Homo sapiens: one gene and its partners. The protein of the gene in region 5 purifies or fractionates together with the protein of the main gene of each other region. This does not show direct contact. Each region holds a gene or a part of one and is shown on either strand. Other genes may lie near its edges. The genes, in order: TRMT1L, STAU1, NUP88, CCNT2, G3BP2, HDLBP and WDR36.

Region 1 (4,319 bases), on a different chromosome or scaffold from region 5:
TATGAAAAATTACCTTTTAATAAATTTGAGCAGGAGTGTCTGATAGTGCTGAATTGGATTCCAAAATTATTGACACAGTGTGCTACTGCATCCAAAAAGTCTAACAATTTTTTTAACTTCTTGTTTAACAAACTTTAGTGCCTCCTATCTGCAAGCTACTGCATTAGGCACTTAGCCATCAGAAAGATGAACAAGAAATAGGCCTTGTCTTCTGTTGATTATTTGTGGGGAAAGCGAACAAGGACACAAATTATACAAATGGGTAAACGAACTGATAGTGAAGCTCGGAGAGGAGTAGTCAAGAAGGTGCTAATATCAAGAATTGAATTTTAAAGTCTCAAGGTTTTAAATTGTATAACCTAATAACATAATATTAGAGAGCCCTGTGGTTTATCCCACCATCTCCTGTCTCCTTGGGCTCTTTACATATCAGTTTCTCCTAATCTTAATATATATTCAGTCCCCACTTTGTAATTGTTCCTTTCTCTTGGAATGCACATATATTCAGGTTCCCCATACTTAAAAAAAAGCAAGTTACAGTCTGATTCATTTCCTTTTTTATACCGTCAAACTTCTCAAAAAAAGAAAAACCTAATTTTCTGTATTTCCTTTCCCCTTCCAATTCTGTTTCTACTCTGAAACACCTCCCTGAACCTGTTTTCTTAAAGGTCACCAGATGTGCTTTCTTGATCTCTACAACTGTTTGTGATATTCAGTGTTGAACGTTTTGCGTTTATAGACTCTTCTCCCTTGGCTTCTGCATTACCTTGATTCCCCTTACCATTTATTCTTTCTGAATCTACATTCCTGATTCCTTCTACTTAATTTTTCTTATAAATATCTACATCTCTCATACCTCACTACCAGATTATATCTATCTATAATAATCAGTAGCGGGTTCAGCAACAGGTAGGGAATGTATCCCCTACCCACCCCAGTCAGAACATGTTAAACTTATTTTAGACTTATTCATGTATTTCCAAATTTAATTTAATTTGAAGAGTGTGTAATGCTTGAGAAACCTGAAAATGCATTAGTGGGACAAATATGTAATGATTGAGAAATTTGAAATGCATTAGAATTAAAATATAAATCACATTTTAAAATTAATTTTACATAGCCTAGTTGGTTGTTTGAAATCAGTCATAACTAGGTAAGACTGGGTCTTGGCTTTTTCTCTTATTTTTCACACTTTTTTTCTTAGGCTTTCTTATTTATTCTCATAGTTTCACCTAATGTGTTACTTACGATTTGTATCTCTAGAATCCCTCCTGAGCTCCAAAAACAAATTGCCAGCTGCCTATTATACATTATTGCTGGAATACTGTACCAGTAGTACATCAAACACACCATGTCAAAAACTAAATTTTCCTTTCTCTTTTCCCCTTCCTTTCTGCCATAAGAGTTTCTTCTGTCTTGTTTGCTTAATATACCATTATTCTCAACCACATAAACTCAAAATCTTGGAATCATCTTTGATTTTATCCTTCACCTTTACTTCTCATATCCCAAGTTCTGTTGCTTATTTTTTTAACCTTCTATTCTGTCCCTTCCCATTGCTAATTTTCTCTGTTACTGATCTTTGGTATTACTGGCAGAGATAGCCTCCTGAAACTCATTCAGATCGTATAATTCACTTCCTCAAAAACCTGCAGAGACTTACCATTATTTGAAGAATAAAGTTCAAACTAACTTGCGTAGAATTTATGTTTTCCTTGGTCTGTACTGCATCTTCAGCTGCACATACTTCTACTGACTCCATCCCCCCAAACATACCACATTCCAGCCAAGGGTGGGGTGGCATGGTTGTATGTTTTCTACACATGGATTTGTTCATGAGGTTACTTCAGTTCATGAGGCCAGTTAGCAAATCTCTACTTAATAGTGTTCATTTCATCCTATCTCATATGATAGTTAGAAGTTGACATATTGCCTTCTCCCACCTGATTGAAAGTTCTTTGAAGATAGAAAACATGACTTAACGTTTCCTTCAGTATTTTGTATAGGACAGAAACATTTTTCATAGAATTATTTTGACTAATTAGATAAAATTTTAAAACTAAGTTTATACAGTGGGGTCTCCCCCCAACTTTTCATTCTAAAGCACACTTGTTATTTTATAAACCGAGTTGTGGCAGTATTCCCCATCTAGGTCCATAACACTGTGTTATAGGAAATAAACTTCTATACGATGTGATCAATAAAAATGGAACTAGAATACAAACTGTTAAAGCATAATCTTCTCAATTTTTTTTTTCAGAGAGACACATCTCAATTCAAAGGCAGCTTGCTGATCTAGAGAATTTAGCTTTTGTAACTGATGGAAATTTTGACTCTGCCAGCTCATTGAACTCAGATAATCTTGATGCAGGTATTTCCATGTTTGGGTTTTTTTTTTTTCTTAGTTTCTAATAATTTATCATCTTTCAATTCACAAAAATAAGTTTGGTAAGAGTAGACTTGTTTATTCTTACTGAACTAGAACAGTGGTAAAATACAGTTTTTTATTCAGGAAATTGGCAACCGCTTATGTGCAAAGTTGCTATGGAAATAAGTTATTTTACAACTCCTCAAGAAAATTATAATTTCACGGATGTCTAGGGGCTGTCTATTCGGCAAGTTAGGAATGGCATTTGGCTACAAGTAACAGAGGTCCCAAAAAACAGTGTCTTAAGAGGTTAATATTCTGTCAGGTAAATGAAGTCCCAAGATAGGCAATTTAGGGCTGGTATGAGAGTTCCACGTTATCAGTGCCCCACACTGCTCTCTTTCTGCTCTACTCTCCTTAGTGTTTGGTTTGTATCCTCAAGATCGCTGACTGCGTGGTTTTTTTGAAGTAGACAGTGTAAAAATAAAAATTGTACCTATACTCTATTGTACTGTATGTGAAAGATATTTGTTGGGTTAAAAATTATTAATATGAGCTGACAGGTATGTAGGTATAAGAGAAAAAAGAAAAAAATTACTAAATGAGTTATTAATGATTCTTGCTGTATATTTTATTGCTTTAAACCTGAATTTGAAATTTAATTCTTTCATCTATACTATCAAAGTTTTTATTTGAGATACATTATATTTCTAATTAAATAAGACATTTTTATGATACATAATCTTTTTGAGAATATGTTAATAAAGAAGGCAGAACTTGTAAATTCAGTAATGGATACGGTGGCTGTAACTATGCGCCCCGTCTCAGAACAGCGGTTATATCAAATCCCATCTATTCCTTCCACTTCCTTCTTCCATTTTTCTAACTCCACATGTTAACTGTTTTTGTTGTTGCCAGTTTAGTAGAGGAATACCACAGCACATACTTTTGCTCTTTGTCCAATCCCTGTCCTTTTGGGAGTGTAACTGCTGTCCTTTCAGCTGTCCAAAATACAGAGTGATGCTCTCAGTGGCAGAAAATTTGGCCGGAAGGATGTCATACAGTTTATCACTTCTTCAACCTTTGTTCCCAGTAACGACAAATGCATCCACTAGCTACAGAGAGGGAAATTTTAGGGTGAAAAAACAATCACTGATCATGTGCTGCAACAATTACTGTTAACTGTCTCCTGGGTCAAGAATAATGACTTCTCCCTAAAGTTAAGAAAGACTTTAAGAAGTAGGAGGGGGAGCCCCCATTAACCTCTTTGTAGTTGAATCCAGGCATTAATAACTAGAATATTCTGTTGTTTATTGATTCTTTTTTCTTTTTAAGGCAACAGACAGGCTTGTCCATTGTGCCCTAAGGAAAAATTCAGAGCTTGTAATAGCCATAAGCTTCGTCGTCACCTCCAGAATTTACACTGGAAAGTCTCAGTTGAATTTGAAGGTTAGTATTTTTGTGCTTGCAAAGAAGTAATATATATGAAATTCAACATTTATTACCAGTTTTGGCATTTTTATCATGAGTATAATCAAATATTTTCAGTTTAAAATGTGAGGGGTTTAATGCCCTCATTTCTAATGTATTTAATAAAACACCATATAGCTTTATAGGCAGTAGAGATCTATATGACACAGTTTAGTTGAGCAAACATTTATTATGCATCTGTTGTATACTGAGTACTCTGACCCTGGGAGTCCATTTTGCTTCTTGAACAATGTTTTAATAAGTTTTCCTTTTATTTTACACATATTTTGGAAGGTATAGTACATGTAGTAAAATAAGAAAATAAAATAATTTGTATGAATATTGGAAAATACAAGATAATATCTCTTTCTGCTGATGGCTTAAAAAAACTACTGGAGTTAAGAGAATTCAGAATGGTGGGATACAAGATAATTCAGAAATCATAGCCATTTTCTACTTCAGATAAATGGAAACAAACAAA
Region 2 (4,319 bases), on a different chromosome or scaffold from region 5:
GAATTAAAGTACTGTTAAAAATGAAAAGAAATTGGCAAACATCAGGAAGTACAATACTAAAAGCCCCAGTTTATGATAACAAAAGTTTTCCCAGGGTATGCCAGTAAGTAAAATACGCAAGGAGAGTGTGTGTACTTATCTCTGTGGGGGGAAAGGAAGAAAATGAGGGAAGAAATATATGTCTATATTTGTATAAAGAAACATACAGGAAAGATACAGGAGAAACTAGTAAAAATGTGATCTATGGGGGAGGCGGTGGGGAGAATAGGAGGGATGGGATGGGGGCTGTCCGAGGGGAAGATTGTACCTTGTAAAATAATGCAGAGTTCTGACCATGTGAAGGTATGACCAACTCAAAAAGGTTTTTTTGTTTTTTTTTGGGACGGAGTCTTGCTCTGTCGCCCAGGCTGGAGTGCAGTGGCGCTATGTCGGCTCACTGCAACCTCCGCCTCCCAGGTTTTAAGCAGTTCTCTGCCTCGGCCTCCCAAGTAGCTGGGATTACAGGTGCCTGCCACCACACCTGGCTAATTTTTGTATTTTTAGTAGAGACAGGGTTTCACCATCTTGGCCAGGCTGGTCTTAAACACCTGACACCTCATGATCCACCTGCCTTGGCCACCCAAAGTGCTGGGATTACAGGTGTGAGCCGCTGTTCCCAGCCTCAAAATGTCTTTTAAAAGTAGAGCTTTCTGCCCAGAGAATCTGGAAAACTTTCAGGCAAAAGGGCCAGAAAGTAACTCAGGCAAATATTTCCCCGCTGAGTCAGCAGATAGTGTAAACTCAACACAAACGAGGGGCAGCCTCCCCATCATCAGCGCCTTCCCCTTCATCAGTGCACTCACACAGACATTGGTCCGTTTCCTGTTCTTGGCATCTCTGTACTTTGTTGGTCCAACTCAGACAGCAACTTTAAGATGTTCAGCGCAGCCTAGTGGGGATGGAAAGAAGGGTAAAGCCACAGCCACCGCTTGGGACCACAGCATAATACACTGGTCAGGCAGGCAAGAGAGTTCCTGCTGCCCAGCAAACAGGTGGCAACTTCTTCAACTCTGGTACTACTAAATAAAACTTTGAATTTTTAATTTAAAATACAAATTAAAAAATATTCAGTTACCTCACTGAATCATAACCTCTGAAAATGTTATATTTTTCCTTCTAGTATTTTTAACCATGTGGTAACCAGACTGTATAAATGTTATATCCTGCTTTCTAACAAAAATCTATCATGTATTTTTCTTTCTATAGAGACAGGGTCTCACTAAGTTGCCCAGGCTGGTCTCAAACTCCTAGGCTCAAGCGATCCTTCCACCTTGGCCTCCCAAAGTGCTGGAATTACAGGTGTGAGCCTCCACACCCGGCCTATCATGTATTTTTCTTCTTATTACATTATCTTCGGAGACACTGTTTTGTTTTGAAACGCAGTCTCACCCAGCTGCCCAGGCTGGAGTGCAGTAGTGCAATCTTGGCTCACTGCAACCTCCACCTCCCGGGTTCAAGCGATTCTCCTGCCTTGGCCTCCCAAGTAGCTGGGATTACAGGCACCCACCACCACACCTGGCTAATTTTTTTTTGTATTTTTAGTAGAGATGGGGTTTCACCACGTTGGCCAGGCTGGTCTTGAACTCCTGAGCTCAGGTGATCCGCCTGCCTCAGCCTCCCGCAGTGCTGGGATTAGTGTGAGCCACCACACCCCACCCAGAGACATTAATTTCATGCATGCATGACATCCCATCAAGTGAATACATCACAGTTTACTTAGATTTGTTGATCTGATCAATTCCTTTTCTCAGTTTTCTTATAACAATAATTTCATCTGAACAGAAGACCAAAGCAAGTGGTTTTTACAGCTGCCAGAACGTGGACCTGCAATTCCTTGTTCTGGTGAGAGATGAAGTGAGTGCAGTCTCTGGGTGAGCTGCAGGATCCCAGTTGCCCCTCCAGGCCAGCAGGGAAAAGGAAGGGAAAGGTGGGCTAAAGCTGATGAGTTCTGATCAAGAGTGAGAAATCGATCCAATCAGCTATGACAAAAAGTCTTCAAAAATATGAACACTATCAAACGATTCATTGCTCTCAAGGTCTATGGGACAATCTTTCTCCCATCTTCCTCAGGCTAGTAACAAGCTGAACCAAGGCAGGCTCCACATAAACACACAACACCCCAATCCCTCACCCAAGGTGTGACGTACCATATCATGGCAGGACTCCACATCCTTGCCGATACCATGGCTGATCAGAGGTGGCTGAGAGGAGCAATTGATAAGAGATACAAATTCGTTCTTGTTGTTTTTGGGGAAGTCTTTGTATTCAACCTAAGGGGGAAAAGAGAGCTGAGGCTAGGTAGGGAACAGCAAGTATGAGTGGGCTGGAGGGCTGCAGCTCCAGGCCCCACAAGCAAGATCACCAGCTCTTTTTTCCAACTCAGCCCCACTGTGGCCATACTAACACCTGCCCTGTCAGCCCAGAACCTTCCAGGAACCTAGGTGTCTGCTCAGAAGCCCAAGACTGGGAGAAGCCATATCCTTTCCTACCAGACAGAAAGTGTCAGCACGATGAGTCTGTTCTTTGAAATCCAAATTTACAACCACTGCTAGTGGTTAGAAGCTTTTAGGGTTGGCTTGCATGTTGAAATCTTACTACCAAAGGATAAAGATATTTCTCTTACCACATATGCTTACAATACTTCTATACCTCCTACCCTTCCATCACTGCTCCCCAGCCCATCCCTGGACAGAACTTGATTTAAGAAAAAAGTACAAAGTTCAAAGTTCATTTTCTGAGAGAAGCCAAAAGATGACTGTCCTGAGGCACAGCCATCACAGCTCAGGCCAGACAGTTACCTGGAATCCCTGGACTCTGGAAAGATAGTCCAGTTGCTCAGAGGGTCTCGTGAGAGGTCCATGGGGTACGTGGCCTGAAGAGATGTTATTCTTTAAAATGGTCTCGGCTGTGGGCGAGGTGCCCCCATACAACAACTCTCGGGCTATCATGGCAGTTACCGTGGCCTTGGCAGGATTCGGAGCTGCCCTGGTAAAATCTTTGGTGTGATGTCCTTGACTAACTCCTACAGCCTGGGCGACCTCGGGCACCATGGGAAGAATTCCAGCAGGCAGCTGCTGATGACTTAGATAAGGCATCCTGAACTCATCCTCTTTATTACCTGGGAGGGACATACACGGTAAACACGAATCCACATCCACAGCCTGGAAAAACGCAATGACACCATCAAACCCCACGCTGGCCCTCCCCTTGGCACGCATGGCAGCGCAGGGAATCAGGGAATGATAAAGACACTTTGCATGCGGGACCTCACTGGCTGGGCTCCTGCTGTTATTCAGGACCCATGCAAATCCCAGAATCACGTTCAGAGGAAGACGATATTAAGATCACACTTACTAGTCCCATTTTCATCCCCAGAGCCAGGTTCAAAAAAGGTTACTTTTCTTCCATCCCCTGGTTTCTTTATGGGTGTCTTAAAAAAGAAGAAGAAAAAAAAAAGGCCATGAGCATAAATCAGATCACTGAAAAATTAGCTCCTGCTGTCTAAATCTACACAAAGTCCAGTCAGCAATAACTGTGGCAATCGGCAGAAAAACCCTGCCCCACCTGACCACTGGCACCCTGACAGACACCTGGGCAGAGCCTGCCTCCTTCTCCTAATGCACCCTCCTGCCCACACCCCTGCCCACAAAGAGCATCTAACAAAGTGCACTAACCTGTGAATGCTGAGCTGCACTCTGCACCCACAGGAAGACGGGAAGCATTTAACCAGAAAGAGCAGAGATGCTAGACGGTAGAGCCCACCAAGGTGGGGAAAGAAGCTTTCAGACTGAAGCTAAACAAATAAATCAAGAATATTTCCTGGAGCTGATATCCAATTAAAAAATAAGGTGACATTCCAAAATTAACACCCTTACGGGGAAAATGTTATTACCTAAGAATTTTGTCTAACACAACATCACCTTTCTAAGAAGTAACAAAGGACACTCTGAATGTCCTACAAGATTCTGAAATGAAAAACCCTAAAGCCAAGTCTAAGATCTATACTGGTGGTATCTGGGGTCCCAGTCAGTTATTAACTGGCCATGACTGATGCTGTTTCTGTCAATATGACTGGCAGACATGAATGAATCAGGCCTGATTTCAAGTTTATCTCACCAGGACCATTCAGTGATGGGAAAGAAGAAGGTCAGCCATGGCTTTTGCTGAGGTCCTGCTTACCACTTCTGGCAGACACGAATTTTTCTTTTTACGTTCCTTTTTTGTTGTTGTTGAGACAGGGTCTGTCGCCCAGGCTGAGTGCAGTGGCATGATCACAGCTC
Region 3 (4,319 bases), on a different chromosome or scaffold from region 5:
TCTCAAAAAAAAAAAAAAAAAAAAAATTCTCATGAAATTAAGTGAAAAAAGCTGGCCATAAAATTATTTGGTTCTACTCTCATCTTAAATAGTTTAAATACACAGATATACAAATAGCAAAAATTTATTATATACACACACATAAATGCAAAAAGGAAACAGGAAAACACATGAAAACATCAACAGTTGTCTCTGAGCAGCAGGATCCGTAAGTTCTACAAATACTCGCAAAGCACCTACTCTGTGCCAGGTACTTTTCTAGGGTCTGGGAATATGTCAGTGAATTAAACAAATGTCCTGCCCTCTAGAGAGAGAAATACCACAAAAAGAGAAGAAATAAAGATGGAACATAAACTCAGAAAATATCATGAAAAATAAAGTAGGGTAAGAGGGTATTGATGGAGGTGCTACTTTAGACTACTTGGTATAGGAAAGACTCTGATAAGATATTTGAGCAAAGATCTGAAGGAAGTAAGAGAGCAAGTCTGTGGTTAACTAGGGAAGGAGCAGTTGAGGTGGAGAGCAAATGCTCTAAGGTAGAAGTGCTTAATGTCTGTGGAATGGCAAGGAGGCCAAGGTGCCTGGAGCCCAGAGAGCCAGGGCACAGAGGGAGGAATGAAGCTGGAAAGGCAATCAGGTGGCATACCTGTGGACCCTTTATAGGTAAAGACTCTGGGAAATCAATGGGGTATGGAGAGCAGGGAAGTAGAATGATCTGATTAAACTGATCTGATTAAACTTAGATTAAAGTAGAATGATGTGATTAAACTTTGGGTGCTGTATTGAAACAGGCTATAGCTATAGGAGATTACAAAGATTTTCATTTTCTTCCTAATACTTTGATCTATTTTTCTCAATTTTCTACAGCAAATATACATTACATGTATATCAAGAAGGCAAATCATAAAACCATGCTGTTTTTATATTTAAAATTTACTGTAGTTATTCAGGAAGATTCTAGTTCAATACAAAGTTAACAAATATGGTTAAAATGAAATCACAATTTCATATAGTTGAGAGAGCAAACATCAATGCAAGATATTATCTTAGTTTCTTTATCACATAGAAAGGTGATAAAGAAATGAATGGTGGCTCAGGCCTGTAATTCCAGCACTTTGGGGAGGCTGAGACGAGCAGGATCACTTGAGCCTAGGAGTTCCAGACCAGCCTGGCCAACACGACGAATCCCTGTTCTACTAAAAATACACTTACTTCTCACATTACCAAAAGCATGCTAGTCACCTCTGAAAAACCTTGCAACCTGTTAAAATTGCATTTATAATCCCAATAAGCTAATTAAAAAACCATTTCAAGACTCAAATAAAAACTTACCCTTTATTGAGTACTAGACTTTCCTCTTCGGCTTCTGAAAGTATTATCACGTTAGTGGGTGTCTGCGGCTCACGTAGTGAGTAAATTCTAGCAACCAAAAGAGAAGAAAACCAGCACTTAAAATTCTGTTTTCATTTCCCAAAACTGCACTTTCCTCTCCATCTAGTCAGTTCTTGAGAATTTTCTAACACTTATCACAACTATTTCTTTGCAAAAATCTTGCTGTTGCAAAGTAGTCTAGTTCATTTATTCTTTAACTACATAAGGGAGTTTCATTGGGGCCTGAAGAAATGTTCTCTATCCTTACCAATACCCTTTAACAGCCTATTCCATAACATCGCACCTCTGTCACTTCCGTCCTGAGCCCTTAGCTATACTCGCCTTGTCCAGTCATCTCACTATTGCCCCTAAGCTTGCCAGTTTTCCTTCAACTACACACATCTATCTCTGCCTATTGGACACCAAATCCCACCAGAGAAAGAACTGTATCTTATTCTTTATATGCCAACTGGCTGACAGAGTGAGTGATATTTAGCCTGCAAATCTACTTATGTGTTTGTTATATAAAAACCCAATATTGGCCAAGCACGGTGGCTCACACCTGTAATCCTAGCACTTTGGGAGGCCGAGGTGAGCAGATCACTTGAGGTCAGGAGTTCGTGACCAGCCTGGCCAACATGATGAAACCCCGTCTCTACTAAAAATACAAAAATTATTTGGGTGTGGTGGCACACACCTGTAATCCCAGCTACTCGGGAGGCTGAGGCAGGAGAATCACTTGAACCTGGGAGGTGGAGGTTGCGGTGAGCTGGAGGCTGGAGTGAGCCAAGATCACGCCACTGCACTCCAGCCTGGGCGACAGAGCGAGACTCCATTTCAAAAAAAAAAAAAAAAACCAAACAAACAAACCCAGTATCGTATCATCTCTATTTTCAAGGGAAAGTATAATACTGAATTTTTTTAACCAAAATTATTTTAATTTAAAGTAACCTACATTTCACAGCATATAAGGCTATTGTGAAAAAGGGAATTTTCAAAAGGCCAGTAATGTCATTTTAGAAATCCAGTGTCCCTTATAATCACTTATTTTGTCTGACGCCACTAAGAATTTTTTAACTTGGTTTCTTCCAATATCAATAAAATGCCACATTAAGTATTTAATAAATTTTTAATGATAACTTGATCCATTTGAATACACATTTATTACAGTCTTCCTAGGTTCCTACAAGCGTTACTAACTTCAAAATACACATAAATACTAGGCAATAATGTTGTACTGGGGAACAGTGAAAGAAAAAGAAGGTGCAACAGGGCATTCGGTGAAAATTTCCTTTTGCTCTGAAACTGCCCAAAATCTCCAAAGCTTAGGAAAACAGAAGTGTTAAATACCACATATTTTAAAAAAGAACCTTCAATATTTGGGGCCAGATACTTCCTTTGGGGCTTAAGAACTGTACCTATGCTATCTTCCCACCATCTCCTTTTCCATCATAGCATATAAAAGGAAGACTAAGAAGAGAGGATGTCAAAGATTCCTTAGGAGTACAGTATAATGTTTGTAATGGGAAGATTTTCCCTCTCCTCTTTCTCTGCCCTGAACTCTAAAGCCAAATGGGTGGGCAGGGAAGGCTCTAGGAAACAGCCAGATGTGGAGGTACCTGTAATAAGGGAGACTGGTGCATTTCCTAGCTGAATGCCCCTTAGTCACTTAGTAGCTGTCTCAGTTATAAGATCGAAAAAACATAGCAATACACACGTATCACGTTCAGTACTATCTACAGTTTCAGGCATTCACTGGGGGGTCTTGGAACACACACCCTGCAGATAAAGTATACTGTACCCCATCTTGAGAGAAGATTCAGGGCATAGAGAACTGACAGGAGCCAATGGGAGCCAGAGCTCCTCAGTGATGGGGGGAGCTGGAAGTTCAACACTGCCCTCCAACACCACCCCACCCCCCCACATACACACACACAAACACACCATCTATGCAGAGACTACCACATCAACAGAGTTCACTAGTGACAGATGGAACGAGATTCAAACAAGATCAGGCATACTTCCCCATCACTCACAGGCTACCAGTTCGGTAAGATCTCTACCTCACCTGTCCCACTCCCCTACCCCACACTGAAGGAGTTAGATTTGGAGGAAGGAGGGGGCAGCCCATTCCTTACACTTCACCCTATGTTCCAAAGTGCTGGGATAACAGGAAGAGTGAAAGAGCAGACCGCACACTCTCCAATCACTTCTGATCCCACAAAACACAGGTCTGACCTACAAAAGGGCCAGGACATAGTTGTGAAAGATTTGAGATCAAATAGCTTTCGACATTCTTATTTTCTTTAGACAGGGTTTTACTCTGTCACCCAGGCTGCAATCTTCCTACCTCAGTCTCCTGAGTAGCTGGGACTACCGGCACATGCCATTATGCCCAGCTAATTTTTTTTGCAGAGACAGGATCTCACTGTATTGCCCACATTGGTCTCGAACTCAGGGGCTCAAATGATCCTCCCACCTCGGCCTCCCAAAGTGCTGGGATTACAGGTGTGAGCCACTGCAACCAGCCAAGATGAGTTTTAAACTGGACACACTGTTTTCATAACTAGAAGTAACGAGAAAGCTATGGGGATCTGTATAAGACATCATTAAGGGGTGAGTCATTCAGCAGTGAAGGAAGATTTAGTAGAGCACAGTTAAAAGCAGTGATTACGAAAAATAAAACTGAAGGTATCTGTACCTCTGCTGAGTCCCCCCAATAACTTTTTACATAAGGCCGATCCAGAAAGTTAGCTGATAATAGAGTAGAAATCTACGTAGCATTAGGGCATTTAATCATAGAGTGCAAAGCTTGGAAGGGGCGTTAGAAACTATTGAATCAAACCTGCTCAATTTAAAAGATTGGAAACTGAGCCCCCCAACCCCTAAAAAGCTCAAGATCTCAAAGATAACAGAAAAGGAGGTGGGACAATAATTCAAATCTCTAA
Region 4 (4,234 bases), on a different chromosome or scaffold from region 5:
AGCACTTTGGGAGGCCGAGGCGGACGGATCACCTGAGGTCAGGAGCTCAAGACCGGCCTGGCCAACATGGTGAAACCCCCTCTCTACTAAAAATACAAAAATTAGCCGGGAGTGGTGGCACACACCTGTAGTCCCAGCTACTCAGGAGGCTGAGGCAGGTGAATAGCTTGAACCAGGGAGGCAGAGGTTGTGGTGAGCTGTGACAGCGCCACTGTACTCCAGCTTGGGTGACAGAGTGAGACTCTGTCTCAAAAAAATAAAAAAAAAATTAATAAATAAAAGAAGTGAAGACTTGTGGCTAGATCATTTATTGGAAGTACAAAAGTATGCCTGATTCGGCAAATGGGACATCTGTAGCCATATAAAGAATAGTCAGAACTATTTTGATTTGTAATTTCTACCATTATTATCCAGGGTTACGTAAGGAATGCCAAATTTATATTAACATTCATTAGTTCACTACTGCCTTTGGAGACAATTTATAATGAATTCCCTTAATCTAAATGTTATCACCAATGGCTTCCTTTCTCTTCCATAACACTATCACTGACCTAAATGTTATGCACAAGAAATAACTAGGAAACTAGAAGCAACAGAGCAAGAATTATGCAGATTTAAAAAAGAAATAGAAGAAGTCTTCAAGAGATCAAAATGTATATTAAAATACTTGTGGTCCAAGATAAACCTGTATGCCAAACTGATAAATGAAATAGGATCCGAAGAGATTAAGGTAGGACTCAATCTAAACCATGAAGCCTTTCCTTCCATTTCAAAAATAATATTCTGAGGATCTTTCCTAGGATTGTTTTCTTAGCAAATAAGTCCTAATGACTATCCACAAATAGCAGAAAGTCTTCTTTGGTCCATTTTTCTACACATACCTTTCAGAATAATATTCTAAAAATAACTATGATAAAAAGTAACAAATAAAGACAGAATTAAAGCAGAGTTAAACATTTCTAAACAATATGCAATTTTCTTTAACACACACAACACAGTATGCGTGTTACTCAACATACACCAAACTCGTATCTTTCATAAATGAAATTAACATTTCAACAAAATGCCATTACTCTATTTGTCAAGGTTTACAGGTTATATACCTTAATATTCAGGTGTAAATTTTACTAATAATACATAAACATACTCCTGACGTACTATATCTGAAGCAAGAGTGGACGTTTGAATCACCCAAAATTTTAGGAGACAACTGATGCTAACGTGATAAACAGAAACGTTGACATCTTAAGAAATTACTAGGTTAGCAAATGAAGAAATGAATTATTTCTACTAAATAGCTCTTTCAAAAGAATGTCATAATTAATTTAATCTCAATTGACAGTCTTTTAAACAATGAGTCCAACATAATTAAGATGTATCACAGAACGACCAGGCTTGCCCAATTCCACTGTACATCACTACTGAAATTATTCAAATGTTAAGTATAGAATTTAAATGAAGAAAACCTATGTAATAACTCTGTAAAGAAATAAATGTTTTTCTTTTTTAGCTTAAAAGGCCTGGCAGAGCTTAACAGTGCCTTGCAGTTTAATTCATCATAAATTTTAAAAACACAAAAACACCGCATCTGAAGCAAAATATTTATCACGTGATATACGTTTACCGTTAATTCAGAACACTAAATCCAACAACGCAATGACCAACTTTTTTTCTGCGTATCGATTTACCCTCAAATTTGCGGACAGTAAAAACAGACAACTAGTACTTACATTTTTGTTGAATTTGGTGAAAGAATGGTGCATATAAAACCTGTGCATATAAACAATCGCAGTGTTTATTGTAAGCTGAGAGCTGGAACGTAATATTTAGGAAATATCTGACAAAAGCAAGATCTCATTCCCAGAACAATTTTGATGGAAAATTCCCAGGTTCTTTTCCAATACCTCCCATTCAAATCCAAACCCCAAACTGGAAATAAAGAAATAAATGCCCGCGGGGGGTGGGGCGGCAGGAAGAGAATAGGCTTGACGCCAAATAAATGGGAATAAGAACTGCTGATCTTTTCACTCTAACAGCGCTGAGGGCCCTGGAACTATTTATCAATGGCTACGACTAACTAAACTCAAAATGAAACAGTTGAAACGCGCGCGCACACACCCATACAAAACCACGCCAAGAACATAAAGAACTCCAGTACGCTCCCAAGGTAGAAGAGAGCCGCCATCAAGCCGGCGACGAGAGCCGGGAAAGGCTGCGGCAAACACTTAGGCCTTTCAGCATCGCTAACCCTCCTACCTCTCAAACCCTTCGGGGTCAGGGACAAGTCCAGGGAGCCGCCCCTTTTCTGCAATAATCCCTAAAATTCCTCTTTCGCCTGAGCCACACTCCCAACCCCCGCCGCCACCACCACGCGCTGCCCCAAACAGATTACACAACGCAGGCTCCTGGCCCGCATTCCTGGGGTCCTATCTCCTCCTCCCTTCCTCTGCTGACCCCTCGCGACTGCCCGAGCCGGAACATTACTTCCCTGACCGCGGCGCCGAGGCCCAGCGAAGGCCGAGGCCGGCGGCGCCATGTTCGCGGGGCACCAGGCCCGGCGACCGGGCAAGGGAAACAGGGCGTGAGCGGCGGCGAACAGAAAAGGATACACATTGAGACGCTGTCCCATCTCCTGGATGAGGTTGGCCGCCTGCTGGCGGCACGAGAGCTCTTTATCCGCCTCCACTCCGCAGCGGCGGCTCGGCGTGTTCTCCAGCTGTTCCCGAGTAAAGAACCAGCGAGAAGAAGCTCCACGGCCCGACGCCATGACACTTCCTCCTCCGCCCGCTCCTTCATTCACCCCCCGCCCCTCCTGGCTCGCGGACTCCCCGCCAAGGCGCGCGACCCCGCCCCACTCCGCTCGCCGTAGACCACGCACCACCCTTTTTCACCACCGCCTCCGCCCTTGCGCATGCGCGGGGCCCGCTCTACCGACTCGCCCTAGTCTTTTGCTTTCTTTTTCTGCCCTCGGCCTCGCTCTTGCGCACGGGACCACAATGCTCCGCGCCGCTTGTCATTGGGAGGCGCCGAAGGTGGAGAGGTCGGCTCGGAAGGAAAAGGTCGGCGCAGCGCATGCCGGGTCTAGGGTTGGCGGGGCGAAGGGGTGGGGAGGGAAGGGGCGGGGAGGGGAGGGGAGGGGAAAGTGGGAGAGGGTGGACTCTGGCCGGTGTGAAGAGAGGCGGTCGGGCGGCTGCGCTGTGGGGGCCTGGGCGTGTACTTCGGAGGCCCGTCGGGCGCTTCCTTTAGACGGGAGGTCTAGCGGCCCTTTAAAAAGAGAAAAATAACCTTCACTGTCGCAGCCTCACGCCACTACTTCCATTTTCCTTTTGGGCGGGTCCGCGCAGTCTCGTAGGCGTGCGACTCCGGCCTCCGCCACCAACAGTCTCCGCCTAGCGCGCGGCTCTGGCGTTGAGCTGGCGGGGAAAGAGTGCACAGGAAGTCACGCTCCATGGCTGTCCGCACCTGAGTGCTTTTTTCACCCTACATTATCTTGTTTAAATCCCAGACCACTTGGTTTATTTTTATTTTTTCAAATTACTTGGCAAACGCTATCCAACTAGCAACGAGAAATTGAATTTCTAAATGAGGTGTTGAATCTAGACGGGGCGTGTTTTCAGGCTGCGCTGTGGTTTCTGCGAGACAAGGTTGGGGAGAATCAGATAGTGCAGGAGGAACTGAGTTAAAATTTTATCTTTAGGATTTGATGTGGGAACATCCCACATACCTGTTGATTAACTCCTGTATTTCTTCCTGTAAGAAAATGCCACTGAGCTTCACTCGGAGTTTGTGTTGTGAATAGGGTTTCTAAGTTTAAAGTCTTAACTATTTGGAGGCCGGGCACGGTGGCTCACGCCTGTAATCTCAGCACTTGGGGAGGTCCAGTGGGCCGATCACTTGAGGTCAGGAGTTCGAGGGCAAGGGCAACATGGCGATACCCCGTCTCTACCAAAAATACAAAAATTAGCCAGGTTTGGTGGCGCGCCTGTAGTCCCAGCTACTCCCGAGGCTGAAGTGGGAGGATGGCTTGAGCCCAGGAGGTGGAGGCTGCGGTGAGCTAGATCTCGCTGCTGCACCCCAGCTTGGGCGATAGTGCAAGACCTTGTCTCGAAAATAAAAAATAAAGTAATATCTATTTGCCAAAGACCATGGAGGCAAGTGATTGTTATGGGGCTCCCACGCTCAGCATACTGCATTGCACAAGAATATTGATTATAGTAGGCAGTTTTTGTAACAG
Region 5 (4,319 bases):
CAAAATGCTCTAAAGATTTGTTGTAACAAGGTTCAAAAAAAGCTTCAAATTGCCCACTATCTACATGGTCACTGAAGTATAATGGCCAACATACCATCAATTTAGAACAGAGAGACAGGGAAGGGCAGTAGAAGTAATATTTGATTAATCAATACTCAATAAATTAATACTTAGAACTATTGGAAGGCAGTAACTTGAAAAGTTAACTTCAAATGGTAAATAAGTAAGGCAATGCTAATCTGGTAAAATCTAAACAGGCATATAACAGGTTATATAGAAAGCTGAGCTTTTAAGGTGCAGAGGAGGCTCCCAAAGGAATGGTAAAACAAAATCAAGATTTACTGAGAGAACAGTGTTTCAACTAATTACATCAGTTACTTCTTTAACCATAACTCCGATTTGAAGTGACTCAGAATTTAGAGAGCCAAAATATAATTGATAGAAATCAACCAGAAAATGACTACTAGAGATCAACCATCAAACAACGTGGTTTGGGTATTGCAGGAAATAAGACTATGAAAATTGAGTAAGTAATATAAAGTTCGTATTTATAATTCATGCAGTGTACGTAAGAAGGTTGAGAAAAAGGAAAAAAGCCAAATTACACTTTCAGAATAAAAGTGATTACAAGAAGAAAGAATTGTGCCATTTTTATTATTCATAGCAAATCATCTTACAGGTAATCCATTTCTAGATCTGGGACCTTCCATTTCTTAAAAAAAGTTAACAAAACGAAACAAAATTCTGAATATGGGAGTAAAAGGTTTCAACTATCTTATCCATGGCCATGAAAAACTCATGACCTTACTGGATCTCGATTTCCTAGTTTACAAATTGAGAAGAAATCCCCGGTCAAGCCTACAAGACTATACAGTTCTACAAAGATAGCCAAGAAGGCCTGGTGCAGTGGCTCACACCTGTAATCCCAATATTTTGGGAGGCCAAAGTGGGTGAATCGCTTGAGCTCAGGTGTTTGAGACCAGCCCAGGCAACATGGCAAAACCCCGTCTCTACTAAAAAATACAAAAAATTAGCGGGGCGTGGTAGTGTGCAAGCGTAGCTCCAGCTACTCGGGAAGCTGAGGTGGGAGGAATGCCTGAGCCCGGGAAGTCAAGGCTGCAGCGAGCCAAGATGGCACCACCGCACTCAAACCTGGGTAACAGGAGTGAGACACTGTTTAAAAAAAAAAAAAAAAAGATAGCCAAGATTAAAGGATACTTATACACAAAAAGAAATCTTTAGAAAGTTCTTAGATTAGCACCTTCAAAGATAACTACCATCTTCAATAAGGTGGTTGTTAGCCTCACCTAACAACCTTTTTAGAAAAAGTTAAATACAATATATCACACTCCACTTCTTCCAATGACACCTGAAAATGTGAAGAATCTCACACAGGAATGCACAGTGTAAAATTTTATCTGATACATTAGCTCTATACACAGTCAAAGCTCTCTCATGAACAAATCCGTCTTTTACTTGTCAAATGAAAACATTATCCAAGGCCAGGCGCAGTGGCTCATGCCTACTTCCCAGCACTTTGGGAGGCAATGGCAGGAGGATCACAAGGTCAGGAGATCGAGACCATCCTGGCTAACACAGTGAAAGCCCGTCTCTACTAAAAATACAAAAAATTAGCCAGGCCTGGTGGTACGCGCCTATAGTCCCAGCTACTCAGGAGGCTAAGGCAGCAGAATTGCTTGAACTCAGAGGCAAAGGTTGCAGTAAGCTGAGATCACACCCTTGCACTTCAGCCTGGGCAACAAGAGCGAAACTCTGTCTCAAAAAACAAAAAACCGAAAACATTATCCAGTATAGTTTAGAGGCTTTTTACTCTCCAACTCTGCCTATCGCACCTAAAATCCCAGTGAATCTTCATCAGAATATTTTATTCATTCCTGTTTCTTAAAATGTTTCCTCTGCATTTGCCTAATTCCTGAAGCACATGCACTTCAGCTCTCACGGAAAATTGCTCTATATTTGTCACCATATTTTCTGAATCTATTAATTATACACATTGAGAGAGAGTGGAGTATTGGTAGATAATACACACTGAGAGGGAGTGGAGCATTGGTAGACATACATGCAGATTAGAAAAGAAAGTCACATTGAGCTTCATTATCCTACAATGAACTTATATTTCCTCAGTTTCAAAATAACGTAAAAACCAAAGTTATCACTCTCCTTTCCTCAAACTTTGACTAAAACGTCACCTTTTAGGTAAGAAACATTTAGGTTTTTTGTTTACCATTTAAAGTTCAGTGAATCACTACTATAATGGGGCTGCCTCCAAAACAATCAATCTTAGGCTACATTAATTTAGATGTAATATCTAAAATGAGTTGATTGCTAATTGAATATAGTGAATGGAAATTATAAGAAGGTAGATTTGGGTGAAACATAACACAAGAATAACGCGAGTTGTCCAAATATCAAATAGAGCTACTTAACAAGTAGCCAGTCACTACAGGTATTCCAGAGACTAACTGAATGGTTTGGCACAAACATAGTAGAGTCCATACATCCAAAAAAGTAAGATTAGGCCATTCCAACACTAAGATCCTAAAAGTCTGTTAACAAGAAGCAGGACTTTTGACTTCTCCTCCAATACTCATCTCACACCTTCCTATCTGCAATGATTGAAACCCTATGCATTTATCTGGGCCCAGCAGAAATCCTGTCCCCTTGAAAATCTTTCTACTCCTACTGAATTCCTCAACAGAATATAACTCTTCTCTATTAACTCTTAAAGCACTTTTGGCCTTTATCATAGCAGTTTATTGATCATGCTCTGCCCTAAATTACTAACTGTACACCTGTCTTCATCTTCTATTCCCCTCTCAAATATTATAACTCAGCTCTCCTTTGAATGCAATTCTCTGGAAACATCACAATTCTTCTCAATAATCGAATGACTTCTCAATCCTCCACCCATCTGCATTATCAATGTTGACTACCTCCTCCTAACTCTTCTAGAGTTCTATAAGGCAAATTTTCCTTCTCATCCAAACGCAGAATTTCTCAAGGTTCTGTCTTCTAACCTGGCAATTTCAGCTTCTGGTCTCATGTCTACCTAAACGTGTATCTAGTCTATACCATAAGTTCAAATTTTACATTTGTCACCACATACTGAACACCTAGACATGACCCACATATGTCCCAATACACGCATGCACCAAAGAAAGCTATTTCCTTATTTCTGTTAAAAGTGTCATAATCTTCTCAACTTGAAAGCTCAGTCGTGACTTTCTCCCCTTTAGCTTTGCCACTTAAACTGTGAAATCCTTACAATTCAGAAGGTGGAATTTGTGCCCTCCTTTTCACTCCCACTGTTCAGACCTTTTATTCTTCAAAAGTCTTTCAAGCCCCTGTATCACGTGTAGTATATACTGTACTGAGTAAAATCCAAACACCTGCATTCAGTTTGGCATCTAAGGCCCTACACAGAAATCCAGTCTGACATTCAATGTCATAACCAACCTTTCAAATTTATCTCCTACTATACTTTCTCATCCCTGTATCAAATTCTATACAAATATTTTAATCACCTAATATTATTCTCTGCAATTTCACTCTCTGCGCCTTTGTCTTACTTCATTCATTCCCATCCACAAGCTGAGTCAATGGGTTATACAAAATAAATTCATTTCAACATTTATTTTATGGCTACTATGTATGTACCAGAAACTACAAAAGGAAAAAGAGGCCGGGTGCAGTGGCTCACGCCTGTAATTCTAGCACTTCGGGAGGCCGAGATGGGTGGATCACCTGAGGTCAGGAGTTCGAGACCAGCCTGACCAACATGGCAAAACCCATCTCTACTAAAAACACAAAAAAGTTAGCCGTGTGCAGTGGCGGGCGCCTGTAATCCCAGCTACTCAGGAGGCTGAAGCAGGAGAATCGCTTGAACCCGGGGGCGGAGGTTGCAGTGAGCTGAGTTGTAAGTACTTGGTATTAGTTATTATAAAAAGAATAAGACCTCTAGTAATAGGAGGCAGTTCTCTTTACCAGATACTGTTACCAAAGGTTATGTGGGTGCTAAGACACAGCTTATCTCCACTATAGGATACTTACCCCTTTCCCCTCTGGAGTCCCTCACTCATAGCTGGGCTCAAACTAGTCAGGTTTATTTATTTTAATTGAACCATGGACTATATCCATTTCCAACAGCTAAATGCATATTAATACTGGAACTTTCTGAAATTCCAGATGGTTTTTGTTTGAAGTAACTTAAACAATCTAAGGAACACTATACCTTTTTAAAGAAATGACCTTCAATCTTTTGTGGTACACCATTGAATGAAAGCTTCACAAAGAAGATC
Region 6 (4,319 bases), on a different chromosome or scaffold from region 5:
GGGTTTCACCATGTTGGACAGGCTGGTCTCGAACTCCTGACCTCAGGTGATCCACCCGCCTCAGCCTCCCAAAGTGCTGGGATTACAGGCGTGAACCACCGGACCTGGCCAGGCTCTACTCTTTCCAACCAAAAAAACGGGGCCTGTGATGGCTATACCCTAGAGCCCTTTCAAGGACTGACCCTTTACAGCAGGGCTCCTCAACCTCAGCGCTGCTGACATTTTGAGTCGAATACTTCTGTTGCGGGGGCTGCCCTGTGTACCACAGGATGTAAGCATCTCTGGCCACAACCACCAGATGATTGTAGGTCACGACAACCACAAAGGTCTCTGGACACTGCCAGATGTGCCCTGGGTAACAAAAATCACCCTGGTGATAACCACTGCTAGAAATAAATAGCGTGATGACTAGTATATAGGAAGCAATGAATACAAAGTTGTTTATTTGTTTTTTTTTTTTTTTTTGAGATGGAGTCTCGCTCTGTCGCCCAGGCTGGAGTGCAGTGGCGTGATCTCGGCTCACTGCAAAGTTCCGCCTCCCGGGTTCACGCCATTCTCCTGCCTCAGCCTCCCGAGTAGCTGGGACTACAGGCATCCGCCACCATGCTCAACTAATTTTTTGTATTTTTAGTAGAGACGGGGTCTCACCGTGTTAGCCAGGATGGTCTCGATCTCCTGACCTCGTGATCCACCCACCTCAGCCTCCCAAAGTGCTGGGATGACAGGTGTGAGTCACCGCGCCCGGCCAAAAAGTTTTAATAGGTGAGGATTTTTATATCATTCATGGATTCTTAAACGTGATCACAAAATCAGATGTTTTATGAGTGACTACCAGCTCCAAGTGTTATCCTTCCAAACTTGAAAACTGAATTTCTGATAAACTGAGTTACCCAGGTTCTGAGGCATCTGTTTAAAAAAAAAAATGAAAAATGAAAAACCCACTCAGAGATTCAGCTTTTTTTTTTTGAGATGGAGTCTTGTTCTTGTTGCCCTGGCTGGAGTGCAATGGCGTGATCTCGGCTCACTGCAACCTCTGCCTCCCAGGTTCAGGCAATTCTCCTGCCTCAGCCTCCCACAGCTGGGATTACAGGCATGAGCCACCACGCCCGGCTAGTTTTGTATTTTTAGTAGAGACGGGGCTTCTCCATGTTGGTCAGGCCAGTCTCGAACTCCTGACCTCAGGTGATCTGCCCGCCTCAGCCTCCCAAAGTGCTGGGACTACAGGCGTGAGCCACTGCGCCTGGCCTCAGCTTTCTTATTTTTAAAAGAAAGGAGCTGAAATCCTACAGGTCAAAAAGTACCCCAAGTCAGGCTGGGAGCAGTGGCTCATGCCTATTATCACAGCACTTCATTGGGAGGCCGAGGCTGGCAGATCATTTGAGGTCAGGAATTCGAGACCAGCCTGGCCAACACGGCAAAACCCTATCTCTACTATTGTGCATGCCTGTAGTCCCAGCTACTCAGGAGGCTGAGGCAGGAGAATTGCTTGAACCCGGGAGGCGGAAGTTGCAGTGAGCGGAGATCATGCTGTCATACTCCAGCCTGGGTGACAGGGAGAGACTCTGTCTCAATAAATTAAAAAAAAAAAAAAAAGTATCCCAAGTCCCCAAGTCATAAGGCTGATAAGAACAGGTCCAGGGAGTAGCTCTGAACCTATTCAAAAAAAAAAAAAAAACGAGGAAAAGCCCAAAATTGAAGTGAGGTCTCCTGACTCCCAGTACAGTCAAAGACACCATCCTTTCATTTTTGTTTCTTTTTTGGGGGGCGGGGGGGACAGGGGGGCAGTGTCATCCTAACCTGGATAAACATCTCAACTCTTTGTTGAGTCAGGGAGAAATAATCAATATCCTGCCTTCTGTACCTAAGACAGCAAGTACTGCTGCAGGTCTCACAAGGTCTACCTCAAGAACTTCTGAGACTACAACAGAGGGAAAAGGCAAGCCCTAGAGTGGATCTGAAAAACGCTTATTTGAAAGAATTCATCGAGACTGCTCACGCCACTTGCTGACTGTTGACTTTGACATCAGCCACTTCTTACCTCTTCCTGCCCCAGGAGAGACCTGCGGTCATAGCACTGGGGTCTCTGGGATACAGCTAAGCCTCCTGAGAGACTGGAATGGGATGGGTAGGGGCTACACGAATAATGGTTTAATTAACATTGACAGTATTAATAGATTAATACTGCAGTGGGCTTGCTGTAGTGATGGTCTACCAAGGAACTTGATTTTTTAGCTTTAAAAATATTCTAAAAGATAACTCAACAAAACAATGTAAAAACTGGCAACCCCCCCATGAGGCTTTACCAAAAAATATATTCTAAACTGTATCTTCAAAACTGTAATTTTAATTATACTTTAATTATAATTTTAATACATGATTTAAATAAAAATAGGATCTTACATGCATTCTTTCACCATCTGCTACACTTATTTTCATTTGAAAAGACACCATGGCCATCTTTCCGAGTACCAAATACAAATTTACCTCATTTGTTAACAACTACATGTTGAGTGGAGTAAACATACCTTAATAAATCCCCTACTGATAGGACCCTTGAACTAATTTTTTTTTTTTTTTGCGATTATAAACAATGCTGGAAAGAACATCCTCTGCTCACTTGGGCCTCTACCCCCACAGGATAAATTGAATTGGAAATGGAATTATATGATGACAGGCAATGCATTGATAGATATTGCCAAGGTAAAACTGCCCACCTCCCAAAGAGTTTAACTAGTTACACTCACAACACCTGATTACAGAATACCTGTCCTCTTCTCCTTTGAGGACAACTAAAATGATCATGTTTATTCTTTTTTCCAGCCTGATGTGCGGGAAATACGATTTTAATGGCAACTCTGATCATCAGTGAGACAGCAATCTTGTTGAGCTTATTGACCTTTTGAATTTCTGTACTGTGAAGATCAAACTAATCACAACCAATCCGTCGTCCACCTTTCTACCAGTGTTTCAGCAACGCTTGTGAGACAAAGCAAAATCCACATCTGGGCAACAGAGCAGTAGGAATGAACAGAAAGAATTATAAATTTAAGTGAAACTCAAGTTGTATGCCAAAAATAACATTCCTAAAGGGCACCCAGGCAAAAGTGATGAGAAAATACTATTAAAAAGGACATCTTTTGCCTCAATTAGTCACACAGTAGACAACGTAAGCTGATGACCTGAGACACCTCAGCCTGCCAAAGTTCCGTTTCATTCACAAACATTAACCTACTCTGCTTTAAGAGAAGGGCTCCCCCAAAAGGTAATTGTGCTTGCAGAAAAGCGTCAAAGTGTATACTGTTTTGCGGGGTATGCAGACCTGGGTAGATGGTAGACTGAGGCTGACTGACAAGGCCAGGTTAGGGAAGCAGTGAAGTAGCTGAAGGCACAAACTGGAGCCAAACCACTAACTCTAGCCTTTGCCTCAGGGTCTACCTCGACCTGTGATAACAACAATACTTGCCTCCTACAGGTGACAGGAAAAGTAAGAAATGTCGTGAATGGTGTGGCCCATGGTCACTTCACCACGATCCACCACCAGTACTGGGTCACTCTGCTCCAGCTCTCCAAAGGCATCAAGATCCGACTGCTAGGAGCCCCGGCTTCTTCCCTGACCTGCCCGTCTCCTACACCCTCTGGTCCTGCTCCACACTGGTCTAATAACTGGTGTTCCACATTCCTCTAACGTGCACAACACAGTCCTGCCCCCGTGCTTTTCACCTCCTGTCCATTCCTCTTATAACGCTCTTCCCCAGATCGCTGCCCATGGCTTGTTTGCTCATCTCAAGTTTGAATCAACTGTCGCTCAATCAGCAAGGCCTCCCCACTATGCCAAACTGCCACTGTGTCCCCCACTCCACTCCCCTCGATACTTTATTTTCCTCCTTTCTTCTTGTCCACATTGGACATACTGCATATCTGCTGGTCTGCTGACTGCCTGACACCGCTTACCAAAACGTGACCTCCGTGAAAGTGCAGGAGAACACACTTGCATTTTCCTTACTGTGTCCCACTTCCTGGAACAGTGTCTCCAGCACGAGCCGTTGTCAGATCAATACATTTACACTACTTCGTGAAGCACCACTAAAATGATAGTAAACGATTTTTTCTTTTTTTAAGATACAAATCACGAAAGCAAAGAATAAGAATAGAGATAAGAACATTAAAATACTGGAGGCTAGAAACTGGAAACAGACCTAAAAGGGCTGAATCCTGTATCGGCAATGGGGAAGGCCAACTGGCAATATGACTGGAAGCCAGGAGACCTGAATTAAAAACAGAGTTGGCTGATAGGTTTAAAAGGCACGAAGATCCCTAAG
Region 7 (4,319 bases), on a different chromosome or scaffold from region 5:
TCATATCCCTAGGAAATGGATGTATATTTTCCTTCAGATTACAAGATCAAGTTTACTATTACAGTCTCCTTTACTAAAAGGTGAAAATACAAACCAAGAATTACTCAGGTATGAAAATACATCAATATTCACTCCACAGGGAAAACAATACAACAAATCATTAAAGTTGGAGAACTGCAATGGAAAATACATTAGTTGAGGTAAGCACATTAAACAGTTTATAAGTAGTTAACTTGCTAAAGTTGTTTATCTCTTTCTTACTTAGAACTTTTTTTCTTACACGTTAAAGATTTTTGATTTTTTTAATTTCTTACTATTTACAGGCAAAATCTCTGGCATAGATGTTTACATAGATTTTAAATTTTAATTAAACACATACTACCCTAAGATAAAGCAAATAAATGAGTTAACTCTTACCTTCTGAATATATGTGCCAAATAATAAGAATGCCATCAGTATCAACAGAGATAATGTGGTCTCCAAAGGGTTGCAAGAAATGGATTTCTGCCTTATGACCCTTAAAGGTATGTACTATCTAAAACATCGAAGTTTAAAAGAATTTCATATTATTACTCAGTCATCATGTCATATTATTCATATTATCCCAAAAACATGCTAATCCTGAGATGCTTCTGTTAAGAAATGTACCCCAACTTTTGATTATTCAAGGTTAGGATGAACACATAAATATTAAGGGACCAGGCATGTTCATCTGCTCCCTCAGCCAGTTCAACAATAAGGAAGTAAACTGTCCATTAAGAACAAAGAAATGAGACCTCTGAGGCTCTGCCTTCCATCTTGGGTTAGAGAGGAGGCATGCACACACACCTAGTTCCCTCACCCAATTCAATCAGTGCAACTACATATATCCTAGCGAGATGGTATATTCCAGAAGGCTGATCTCTAAAGACTCCATCACCAACTGGCTTTCAGATGAGATGGGAAAGGGGGATATAGGGTCTTCTTCCCCATACCCTTCTGCTTTGACAGAGATCCTTACAGTAGCTGATCCCTCCATAAGTATAGCCCCTTCTCCATGGTTTCAGTTCTCACTAGATTCCAGTAACACTGTTTCCTCTCCTTGGCCCTTTGGCCTTAGGGGTGGTAACAACTTCCTACAGTTGACAGTGTCTGACGCCTCCCCACCCCTATTTTGTTCCCCTAACCCTGACCACACCTGTGCATAAAGGTCCTTTATTAAAGTCTCCACATCTGAACCACATATAGGTTATACATATAGGATAAAGTCTCCTCATGTAAATCACATATATCTCCCTGGGAAAACTATAAACAACAATACAAAAATGAACATTTTTTCCAATTCTAAAAATCTGAACACCTTCCATTAAAGAACTCTACAGATAAGTTACCTTCCTCTGCCACAGGAAGTGATGATGAAAGACTGTGGGAACCACCTCACTCCAAGTCCCTGACAAGTACAGTGATACTATCATTTGGCTATCTTTGTACCCCCATTCCTACATTTCCTTTCATTCTAGACCATTAAGGCCAGGTCACTTCTCAAGCTAGTTGTTCCAGGACAAATTCAGAAACCAACTGGTAGATTTAGACCAGAAAAGATCTTTCCTTAGCAGTGGAGAAAACATAGAATCTAGCTTTCTCTAAACAGCGAACAGGCATCTGATTTTTAGAAAAAGAGTTATAAGCTAAGTTATACATAATAAATAACCAATCCACATAAAGTGGTGGTGCAAATATGAATTTTCTAGGAAAGTATTTTAAAACTACACTTAATAATACACATTATGTCCTATCTCAACAAATATACAAAATAGAAAACTCCTGAGATGGGAACTAACGGCATAAAAAATTTTGAAGAAGGTCTCCAAGTAATTTTGATATTCATCTCTGGCAAAGAAACTGAAGTAAAGCACCAGTTTTAAGTAAGCCTTTTCTGAAAATTTATCTTCCTCCAGAAAACTGAATATACATTAGAAAAAAAAGAATACTGTATAGTTCCAGAGTGTGCTGGGTAAAGAATGACAAAATTAAAGTTCCCTCCACTATCATGACAAACAAATACTGACTGACAAACAAGTAGTTTAGCGATACCAACCTCTTTATTACGGGCAAATGCAGAGAAAACATTTCCATAAGCAGCAAAGACTAATCTGCCATCAGCTGCCATACAGCAGATATCCTGTGGAACAGAATTACCTAGCAGAAAATACAAAATGAAAGAAACAGGGATTTTTAAGATGTTAAAGAGAAACCTCAAGTATACATATAACATTTTTCATGGCTATAATTTAAAAAAATATATAAATAAAGATCAAAGTTGAGAATCAGTGTATAAAATTTTAACTAAAATATTTTAGATATCTAATAGTAACTATCAAACTAAGGATAGGAAATCACCTTGTCCTTCCCTAAGAGAATGTCTAGGATTTGCAGAAATAAAAACATAATCCTAGAGAAATGAAAACAAGCTTTTTGAGGTTATTTGGAAAAAACTGTCATTTGAAACACAAAGCTCTGACAGATAGTCATCCAGTCTTCACGTGAACATCTTTTTTTTTTTCTTTTTTTTGAGAGACGGAGTCTTGCTGTGTCACTCAGGCTGGAGTGCAGTGATGCAATCTTGGCACACTGCAACATCCGCCTCCCAGGTTTAACTGATTCTCCTGCCTCAGCCTCCCAAGTAGCTGGGATTATAGGAGTGCACCACCACACCCGGCTAATTTTTGTATTTTTAGAAGAGACAGGGTTTTGCCATGTTAGACAGGCTGGTCTTGAACTCCTGACCTCAGGTGATCTGCCCACCTCGGCCTTCCAAAGTGCTGGGATTACAGGCGTGAGCCACATGCCTAACCCATGTGAGTATCTTCTGGAACATCAAGTTCACTAATAACTCCAGAAAAATTTTAAAAGTAACTCAAAATCTAAATCTCTAACTCTACCCTTTGGACCAACCCAAAAATATTACATATGGTATTCTATATGCCTATTCCTAAAACATTTAAAGACAATATTGTTTCTACAGTCTTCTCCAAGGGAAATATGCCTATCAATCTTTAGCATTTCTCACGTGACATATGATTCTTCTCTCAGTATCCTGGTCACACTGACCTTTTCATTTCCTCTTTTGGGGCAGGAGGGTTAGTAGACACAGGATTGTTGTACTTTTCATGCTGCAAATTCCATATTAGTATTTGTTTGCATAACCCTGTTTTATAAGTTTATCATTCACTTTTGTATTCAACTTAAGTTCCAATGCCTTTCTTCTGCCTTCTAATCTATTATTAAAATATAAGTTTAATACACATACACATTACAGTCCTTGTAGGTCTTCTGTTTCTCTCACAAGAACCATATTTGATGGTAAAACAAGTACCTCTCTGCCCTGAGAAATGTTTTATTCTATTAGATAGTTTAAAAAAAAACCCTTCCATTGGAAAGAAATACCAAAATGTGAGAAAAGGGAAAACTTCTCCTTACAGTAGAAGGAATGATGGCAAAAGAAAATCACTATAGGCTGACTATGCTTTATCTGAAATGTTTGAGACCAGAAGTGTTTCAGATTCCGGATTTTTTTGGATTTTGGACTATATGTATAACCAGGTGAATGTTCCTAATCTGAAAATCTGAAATCGGAAATGTTCCAATGAATATTTCCCTGTTAACGTCATGTTGGCTCTCAAAAAGTTTCAGACTTAGGAGCATTTTGGGTTTCAAATTTTTGGATTAAGGATAATCAACATGCATTTGGCAACCATCATACTAATAACTGATTCAGGCAAGTATCATCATAAAATATAAAAGCAGCAGGTAATAACTTTGAAGAGTACTAAGATATTTACATAGTCCCAGTGCATACTACCAAAAGATACTTATTCGTTACAAATGACAAAACACTAACTTAAAAATAGAGCCTCCTAACCAATCACTACCAGGAACAGAACCAACTAACAGCATGTGCCTTCTGATACAATTCACTGTGATTCCTCCCAAGGGGTACAACCTAAATCTAATCCTGAAGAAATGTCAAAAAAACTCAAACTGAAGGACATTCTAAATGAGCCTGTACTCTTCAAAAATGTCAATGTGTCAATGTCATGAAGCACAAAGAAAGTCTAAAGAACAGTTCCAGATTAAAGAAAATAAAGATACATAACAACTAAAAGCAAAACATGATTTATCCTGGCACCCTTTTTTGTTGCTGATAATGTAAGTTTATAAGACATACATGTTACCTTGGCTTCCTTATATGCTCTGTAAGTCTCACATTTATGTCAAAATAAAAAAAAAGTTTAGATGTGCATAAATTCAGAATAAAGTCCATACTTACTTACTGCAAC

Evidence for each region.
Region 1: the proteins of G3BP2 (region 5) and TRMT1L purify together in Homo sapiens (affinity purification with mass spectrometry; one large-scale study listed by BioGRID and IntAct). This does not show direct contact.
Region 2: the proteins of G3BP2 (region 5) and STAU1 purify together in Homo sapiens (affinity purification with mass spectrometry; 3 studies listed by BioGRID and IntAct, with this or other methods). This does not show direct contact.
Region 3: the proteins of G3BP2 (region 5) and NUP88 purify together in Homo sapiens (affinity purification with mass spectrometry; 2 studies listed by BioGRID and IntAct, with this or other methods). This does not show direct contact.
Region 4: the proteins of G3BP2 (region 5) and CCNT2 purify together in Homo sapiens (affinity purification with mass spectrometry, with the first as the bait; one large-scale study listed by BioGRID). This does not show direct contact.
Region 6: the proteins of G3BP2 (region 5) and HDLBP purify together in Homo sapiens (affinity purification with mass spectrometry; 2 studies listed by BioGRID and IntAct, with this or other methods). This does not show direct contact.
Region 7: the proteins of G3BP2 (region 5) and WDR36 purify together in Homo sapiens (affinity purification with mass spectrometry; 2 studies listed by BioGRID and IntAct, with this or other methods). This does not show direct contact.

The regions. Positions count from the first base shown.
Region 1 is NC_000001.11:185,149,877-185,154,195, reverse strand, and holds part of TRMT1L (tRNA (guanine(27)-N(2))-dimethyltransferase), read left to right. Parts: intron 1-2,260; coding exon 2,261-2,371; intron 2,372-3,703; coding exon 3,704-3,817; intron 3,818-4,319. UniProt on the Homo sapiens protein: Specifically dimethylates a single guanine residue at position 27 of tRNA(Tyr) using S-adenosyl-L-methionine as donor of the methyl groups. Dimethylation at position 27 of tRNA(Tyr) is required for efficient translation of tyrosine codons.
Region 2 is NC_000020.11:49,114,940-49,119,258, forward strand, and holds part of STAU1 (double-stranded RNA-binding protein Staufen homolog 1), read right to left. Parts: intron 3,470-4,319; coding exon 3,394-3,469; intron 3,158-3,393; coding exon 2,838-3,157; intron 2,310-2,837; coding exon 2,187-2,309; intron 929-2,186; coding exon 843-928; intron 1-842. UniProt on the Homo sapiens protein: Binds double-stranded RNA (regardless of the sequence) and tubulin.
Region 3 is NC_000017.11:5,409,371-5,413,689, forward strand, and holds part of NUP88 (nuclear pore complex protein Nup88), read right to left. Parts: intron 1,420-4,319; coding exon 1,333-1,419; intron 1-1,332. UniProt on the Homo sapiens protein: Component of nuclear pore complex.
Region 4 is NC_000002.12:134,917,388-134,921,621, reverse strand, and holds the start of CCNT2 (cyclin-T2), read right to left. Parts: upstream 2,801-4,234; 5' UTR 2,768-2,800; coding exon 2,610-2,767; intron 1,813-2,609; coding exon 1,731-1,812; intron 1-1,730. UniProt on the Homo sapiens protein: Regulatory subunit of the cyclin-dependent kinase pair (CDK9/cyclin T) complex, also called positive transcription elongation factor B (P-TEFB), which is proposed to facilitate the transition from abortive to production elongation by phosphorylating the CTD (carboxy-terminal domain) of the large subunit of RNA polymerase II (RNAP II).
Region 5 is NC_000004.12:75,666,110-75,670,428, forward strand, and holds part of G3BP2 (ras GTPase-activating protein-binding protein 2), read right to left. Parts: intron 1-4,319.
Region 6 is NC_000002.12:241,305,313-241,309,631, forward strand, and holds part of HDLBP (vigilin), read right to left. Parts: intron 1-4,319. UniProt on the Homo sapiens protein: Appears to play a role in cell sterol metabolism. It may function to protect cells from over-accumulation of cholesterol.
Region 7 is NC_000005.10:111,094,938-111,099,256, reverse strand, and holds part of WDR36 (WD repeat-containing protein 36), read right to left. Parts: coding exon 4,310-4,319; intron 2,179-4,309; coding exon 2,078-2,178; intron 536-2,077; coding exon 418-535; intron 1-417. UniProt on the Homo sapiens protein: Part of the small subunit (SSU) processome, first precursor of the small eukaryotic ribosomal subunit.